Linked DNA regions of Homo sapiens. The protein of the gene in region 2 purifies or fractionates together with the protein of the main gene of each other region. This does not show direct contact. Each region holds a gene or a part of one and is shown on either strand. Other genes may lie near its edges.

Region 1 (3,649 bases), on a different chromosome or scaffold from region 2:
TCTTTCTGTCTTTTCCCCCTCCCAGCACCAGCATCCTTTGATAAGAAGGTGGGGGAAGGACAGTGAGGGCCCCGTTGTGCAGAGGAGTTAAGGATGGGAAAGGCTTGGGCGGTAGGAGGAAGAAAAGCTCCATTCTTTCCTCATCTGCCTAATAGAGTCTCCTGTCACTGGCTCTGTCTGGCCGCTTTAAGCTCTTTGGAATTTACATCCAGTGCTCACTCAACAAAGCCTATTGCATGGCAGGGCTGATGGAGCCCTGGGCCTGCTTCTCAGCGCTGCATGACCTTGGGCAAATCACATCCCACTGCAGAACCAGAATTGTCATTGATGAAGCTGGGCTACTATCACCTGCTTCCCTGGAATGTTTGGAGGATTGAGTGGGATAATGTGTATCAAAGCATCTAGCATAGTCTAGCAGAAAGCCTCCATATACACGTCCTTCTCCCATGGGGCATAGTCACAGGTGGGTGAGAGCTGTATGATTTGTCCAGGGCTATCCTTCTGGCAGAGATGGGATCTGAATTTAATGCAGGGGGACAGTTTTTCATGATGCTTTTGGGCCGGGCGCAGTGGCTCACACCTGTAATCCCAGCACTTTGGAAGGCCGAGGCGGGTGGATCACCTGAGGTCAGGAGTTCAAGACCAGCCTGGCCAACATGGTGAAACCCTGTTTCTACTAAAAATACAAAAATTAGCTGGGCGTGTTGGCTGGCACCTGTAATCCCAGCTACTCGGGAGGCTGAGGCAGGAGAATTGCTTGAACCTGGGAGGCAGAGGTTGCAATGAGCCAAAATTGTGCCATTGCACTCCAGCCTGGGTGACAAGAGGGAAACTCTGTCTCAAAAAAAAAAAAAAAGATGCTTTTGAACTCCTCAGATGGCTTTATGAAAAATGAAACACTTTGCCATGTTAGTGGTTGGCGCCTTTGAAAAAGGACAGTGGCAGGTTGAGAAGCAAGGACCTTGGAGCCAAGGAGATCTTTGATTCAGACCCGACTCCCTGACTGTGAAGTCTTTTGCACATTGCATAACCTCTCTTGGCATCTCAGTGTCTGTTTTCCAGCTTGTTGTGGCTCTTAGGTCAGAAGATGTCTGAATATGCCTGACATAGGGTCTAGCATCAGTGAGTGCTCAGTAATTTGAGTCCCTGGTCTACAGAGCCTCAGTGCTGGGACTCAGGGAGAGGAACATGTAGACTAAGGGAAGTTTCTTCACCAGCCCCAGCTTTGCTCAAAACCAGAGTTGAAGTAGAATGCAGAAGACGACGTGGAAGTGAAACTTGGGCAATAACTTCCTAAAATGTCTGCTTTGCTCCCCTGAACTCTGGTTTTGTGTCTTGCCCTCTGCTTCTGGGACACGAGAGACCAACCAGTGTGTAGACAGATCAAACAGGCTTGCAAATGAAAGAATCAAATGGAGATTTCTGTGTTTTCTGAAAAGTGGTATTTTACAGTCATTCCTAAACATGCCTTCATAACTCTCAAGTTTTCAGGTCTTGAGGGAGGAGTGAGATTCATCCTGCCATTCAACAACAGAACAGTCACTGAGTGTGCACCTCCTGTGTGCTAGGCCCCGTGATGGATCCACATGGGGAATGATAGTGTGTGCCCCACAGTCACCCCACACATGTCCCTGAGGCCTGAACAGCTTGGAGAATGAAGGAGTTTGGGTTTATTTCTTTGGGTTAACTTAAACTCAGCCCTTCTAGGCCCATTCTTTTCACTCAGGAATTGGATAAGCTTTTCTGAGGGGTTTGGAATGGGATGGCAGGGAGAGTCACCAGACACCATGAATGACAGGCCAGCAGGTTGATGGTGGCGAGTGGAGCAGGAGCTAGGGAGTGAGGTCACATTTCTGGACTATGTGTGCAGGCAGCTATGGACCTGGCAGAAAGCCCCTCTATTTATTTATTTATTTAGAGACAGAGTCTCGCTCTGTCACCCAGGCTGGAGTGCAGTGGCACGATCTCGGCTCACTGCAACCTCCACCTCCCGGGTTCAAGCAATTCTCCTGCCTCAGCCTCCCGAGTAGCTGGGACTACAGGCGCCCGCAACCATACCTGGCTAATTTTTGTACTTTTAGTAGAGATGGAGTTTCACCATGTTGGACAGGCCAGTCTTGAACACCTGACCTCAGATGATCTGGCCGCCTCGGCCTCCTAAAGTGCTGGGATTACAGGCGTGAGCCACCATGCCTGGCCTGGAAGCCCCTCTTAACAGGGCTCCCATCAGGATCACGTCGTGGGTTTCTGTGATTTTTTTGGTCTCCTTTATGGCAATATTAACTTTCTTTTATGGAGCATGGAGCAAGTGTCCTGTACTTTGTTGTTGTTGCTGTTTTTGGAGATGGAGTTTCGCTCTTGTTGCCCAGGCTGGAGTGCAATGGTGCAATCTCGGCTCAGCGCAACCTCCGTCTCCCAGGTTCAAGCAATTCTCCTGCCTTAGCCTCCAAAGTAGCTGGGATTATAGGCCTGTGCCACCACGCCCAGCTAATGTTGTATTTTTAGTAGCGACAGGGTTTCACCATGTTGGGCAGGCTGGTCTCGAACTCCTGACCTCAGGCGATCCACCTGCCTCGGCCTCCCAAAGTGCTGGGATTACAGGCGTGAGCCACTGCGCCCAGCCATGTCATATACTTTGAATATTTTATTTCTTACTTTCATGGTAACTCTGTGAGGCAGGTAATATTATTCCCGTTTTACAGATGAGGAAACTGAGAAAACCTGGAGGCTGATAAAAAGCAGAGCTGGAATTCAAACATACCAGGCCAGCTTCAGTGCCCACCTCCTGTTTTTACTACCTCCTTTGGGTGAACCTCAAACGTAACTGGAAAAGTCTATGAATGGAGTTGTGTAGCCGAGAGCAGACACTGCTCCTGCTGGACCCTGCTGGGAGAGGGCGGTGGTTTTCTCAGTGGGCATCTCATAACGGCGGGCATCTCAGCAGCCCTCAGGGCCAAGAACCACCTACTGCAAACTCGTCAGCCAAGGAAGCTCAGAATTTATAATTGTGGTTGTAAGTAGATTACTTGAGCTAATGTGAGCAGTGAGGTTTTTGGTAAAGTTAGTGTGAAACTGACTCATACTAATAATCTACCTCTTGATGCATTTGGTGTTGCGATTTGTAGCACTTTGCATTGTCTGCATACATGCATCCCCACTAGAAAAGATTTGGGGGAAAGAAGGGTCCTGAGACCATACACTCTGGGGGATTGAATTTGAAAGGAAAATTTCAATGTTTGGATGCTGGTCCATGTAGACTTGAGCAAATAAGGTGCACATAGGATTTATACCTCTGCTTTCAAGTCCCCCCACCCATTTTCTATATGTGACCTTGCCAGCATACTCTATGCATGTGTTCCCCCTTCTGCAGGATTTCTTTAATCTGCTCATACCTTGGGTGTGCTTACACTTCCTGGGTGGGAGGTTCCAGATATATGTGTGTATATATATACATATATATATACATATATATATGTATATATATACACATATATATGTATATATATACACATATATATGTATATATATATAATTTGTGTTTTTAGTAGAGACGGGGTTTTACCATGTTGGCCAGGCTGATCTCGAACTCCTGACCTCAGGTGATCCACCTGCCTCGGCCTCCCAAATAAATAAATATATATATATTTTA
Region 2 (3,649 bases):
TTGAAAGCTCCACCTTTTAAACACCCAGCATCAGCCCACCTCTGCCCCCTCCACTGCCCCTCCTTCCAGCCTCCTTCCTGGTCTTCCTGCCCACAGTCCCGCCCCTCCACTCCCAATTTGTTCTTCCACATCAACTTGTTGGAGCAGTTTATAAAATCAGACAGTTACGATGTGGGAGATCGTGCAGCCAAGCGAAAACGTTTCTTCCACACCATATAAATGGGGGTGTGGGGTTTCTGGATTAAGAGAGATTTAAGAAACATCAGCACAAACGCAGGATGTGGACCTTGCCTACAACAAACAATTCAGTAAAAAGACATTTTAAGACAATTGGGGAAAACTGAACATGAACTGGTTATAAGATAATTGTAAGAAACTGGTCAGGCATGGCGGTTCATGCCTGTAATCCTAGCACTTTGGGAAGACGACAAGGTGGGAGGATCGCTTGAGCCCAGGAGTTCGAGACCAGCCTGGGCAACATAGGGAGACCTCGACTCTACAAAAAAAAAAAAAAATTAGCCATGTATGGTGGTACATGCCTGTAGTCCCAGCTACTCGGGAGGCTGAAGTGGGAGGGTCACCTGAGCCTGGGAGGCAGAGGTTGCAGTGAGCCGAGATTGCGCAACTGTACTCCAGCCTGGGTGACAGAGCCAGACCCTGTCTTTAAAAAAAAAAAAAAAAAATTCATTTTGCTAGGTGTGATAACTGTATTGGTTTATACTTCTGAAACAGTCTTCTGTTAGAAATCAGTCTGAAATAATTACGGATAAAAGATCTGATGTCTGGGATTTACTTTAAAATAGTGCAGGACAAAAACTTAGAGGTGTGGGCAGGGCAGGGAAGAAGATTGGCAAAGTGTTGATAACTAGTGACACAGTGATGGATACTGAGGGCTCTACTTTTTGTGTATGCTTGAAAACACCCACTAACAAGTCTTTAAACAACTCAACAACAATAAAACACAAATAACCTGATTCAAAAATGGGCAAAGGACTTGAACAAACATTTCTCCAAAGACATACAAATGGCCAATAAGCACATGAAAAGATACTTGACATCTCCAATCATTAGGAAAACGCAGTATCAGAACCCTGATGAAATATCATCTGACAAACACCAGAACAGCTACTATTGAACAACAACAAAAAAGAGGCCGGGCATGGTGGCTTGTGTCTGTAATCCCAGCACTTTGGGAGGCTGAGGCAGGAGGATCTCCTGAAGGCAGTAGTCCAAGACCATCCTGGGCAATGTAGCAAGACCTTGTCTCTACGAAAAAATATTTTTTAAATTAGCTGGGTGTGGCAATGTGCATCTATAGTTCTATCTACTTAGGAGGCAATGTGGGAGGATTGCTTAAGCTCAGGAATTTGAACGCTGCAGTGAGCTATGATCACACTACTGCATTCCAGCCTGGGTGATGGAGGAGGAGGGGAAGGGGAAGGGGGAGGGAGTAAGAGGGGGAGGAAGAGGAAGAGAAGAACAGTGTGTGTGAGGATGTGGAAAAACTGCTGGAACTCTGGTACACTGCTGGGAATGTAAAACGGTGCTGCCACTGTGGAAAACAATATGGCAGTTCCTCAAACACTGAAAAATAGAATTACCATATGACCCAGCAATCCACTTCTGCTTACATACCCAAAAGAACACAAAACAGGGTCTTGGAGAGATATTTGCACACCTGCGTTCGTAGCAACATAAATCAGGCCTGGCGTGGTGGCTCATGCCTGTAATCCCAGCACTTTGGGAGGCTGAGGTGGGTGGGTCACTTGAGCCCAGGTGTTCAAGACCAACCTGAGCAACAGGTGAAATCTTGTCTCTACAAAAAATAGAAAAATTAGCCAGATATGGTGGCATGTGCCTAGAGGCACAGCTACTCAGGAGGCTGAGGTGGGAGGACTGCTTGAGCCCAGGAGGTTAAGGCTACAGTGAGCCATGATCACATTACTGCACTCTAGCCTGGGCAAAAGAGCGACATGCTGTCTCAAAAACAAACAAACAGACAACAGAAACATAGCAGCATAAATCACAACAGCCAAAAGGTGGAAGTGTCTATCAACAGATACATGGATAAGAAAAATGCTGCATATACATACAATGGAATTTTATTTTATTTAGTCTTTTTTTTGGGGGGAGGGAGGAGATGCAGTCTCACTCTGTCACCCAGGCTGGAGTGCCATGGCGCAATCTCGGCACACTGCAATCTCTGCCTCCTGGGTTCAAGTGATTCTCCTGCCTCAGCCTCCTGGGTAGCTGGGATTACAGGCTCCCGCCACCATGCCCGGCTTATTTATTTATTTTTGCGATGGAGTCTCACTCTGTTGCCCAGGATGGAATGCAGTGGTGTGATCTCGGCTCACTGCAACCTCCGCCCCCTGGGTTCAAGCGACTCTCCCGCCTCAGCTTCCCAAGTAGCTGGGATTACAGGTGCCTGCCACTGCACCTGGCTATTTTTGTATTTTTAGTAGAGATGGGGTTTCACCATGTTGGCCAGGCTGGTGTCAAACTCCTGACCTCAGGTGATCCACCCACCTCGGCCTCCCAAAGTGCTGGGATTACAGGTGTGAGCCACTGCATCTGGCCTGGAATTTTATTTAGTCTTGATCTGACACATGCAACAACACAGATGAACTCTGAGGGCCATTAGGGTAAGTGAAATAAGCCAGTCAAATACTGACGATTTCACTTATATGAGGTAGAACAGTCAAATTCCTAGAGACAGACAGTGGAATGGTGGTTGCCAAGAGCCTGGGGGAGAGGGAAAGAGGGAATTGTCCAATGGGGATAGAGTGTTTTAGGAGAGGAAAAAGTTCTGGAGATTGGTTATACAACACTTAACATTAGTGAATTGTACACTTAATGATCAAAATTGTACACTTAAAAATGATCAAAATGGTAGATTTTATGTGTATTTTGCCACAGGTAAAAATAATTTTAATAGGCCAGGCACGGTGGCTCACGCCTGTAATCCCAGCACTTTGGGAGGCCGAGGTGGGCGGATCACTTGCAGTCAGACCTCAAGTGATTTTGAATTCAAGTTCAAGACCAGCCTGGCCAACATGGTGAAACCCCGTCTCTACGAAAATTACAAAAATTAGCCAGGCCTGGTGGCGTGTCCCTGTAATCCCAGCTACTCGGGAGGCTGAGGCAGAAGAATTACTTGAACCTGGGAGGTGGAAGTTGCAGTGAGTCGAGATCACGCCACTGCACTACAACCTGGGCGACAGAGCAAGACTCCATCTCAAAAAAAAATTTTTTTTGTTTTAAGTTTTAAAAAATAAAAGCTTTCTCAGTGGTTGTGGGTGAGGATTATCTGATGAGGGACCCTCTAAATGTGCCCCACTTCTCCGGTTTCCGGGTGCCACTTATTCCCAGCATCTGCTCTTACCCTCTTAGATGGTAATCCACTCTCTATTTAGACCTGGGCTCAAGGCTACCCATAATAAAGACCTCCTTTTCCAGCCTTATTTGCAGCCAGGGGTGGCCACATGATCAAATGCTGGCCAGTTTGTCCTTAGCAGCTGCCAGAAACTGAGACTGTAAATGTTTATTTCAAGCTGCTAAATTTGGGGATAGTTTGTTATATAGCATTAGATAACTAAGACACATCTCATGCATATCCCATCTTCACAATGTTTTCCATATCTGTGAT

What was found.
Region 1: the proteins of THAP8 (region 2) and CYRIB purify together in Homo sapiens (affinity purification with mass spectrometry; one large-scale study listed by BioGRID and IntAct). This does not show direct contact.

Annotation. Positions count from the first base shown.
Region 1 is NC_000008.11:130,006,477-130,010,125, reverse strand, and holds part of CYRIB (CYFIP-related Rac1 interactor B), read left to right. Parts: intron 1-1,672; exon of another isoform or gene 1,673-1,792; intron 1,793-3,649. UniProt on the Homo sapiens protein: Negatively regulates RAC1 signaling and RAC1-driven cytoskeletal remodeling. Regulates chemotaxis, cell migration and epithelial polarization by controlling the polarity, plasticity, duration and extent of protrusions.
Region 2 is NC_000019.10:36,040,648-36,044,296, forward strand, and holds part of THAP8 (THAP domain-containing protein 8), read right to left. Parts: intron 1-3,649.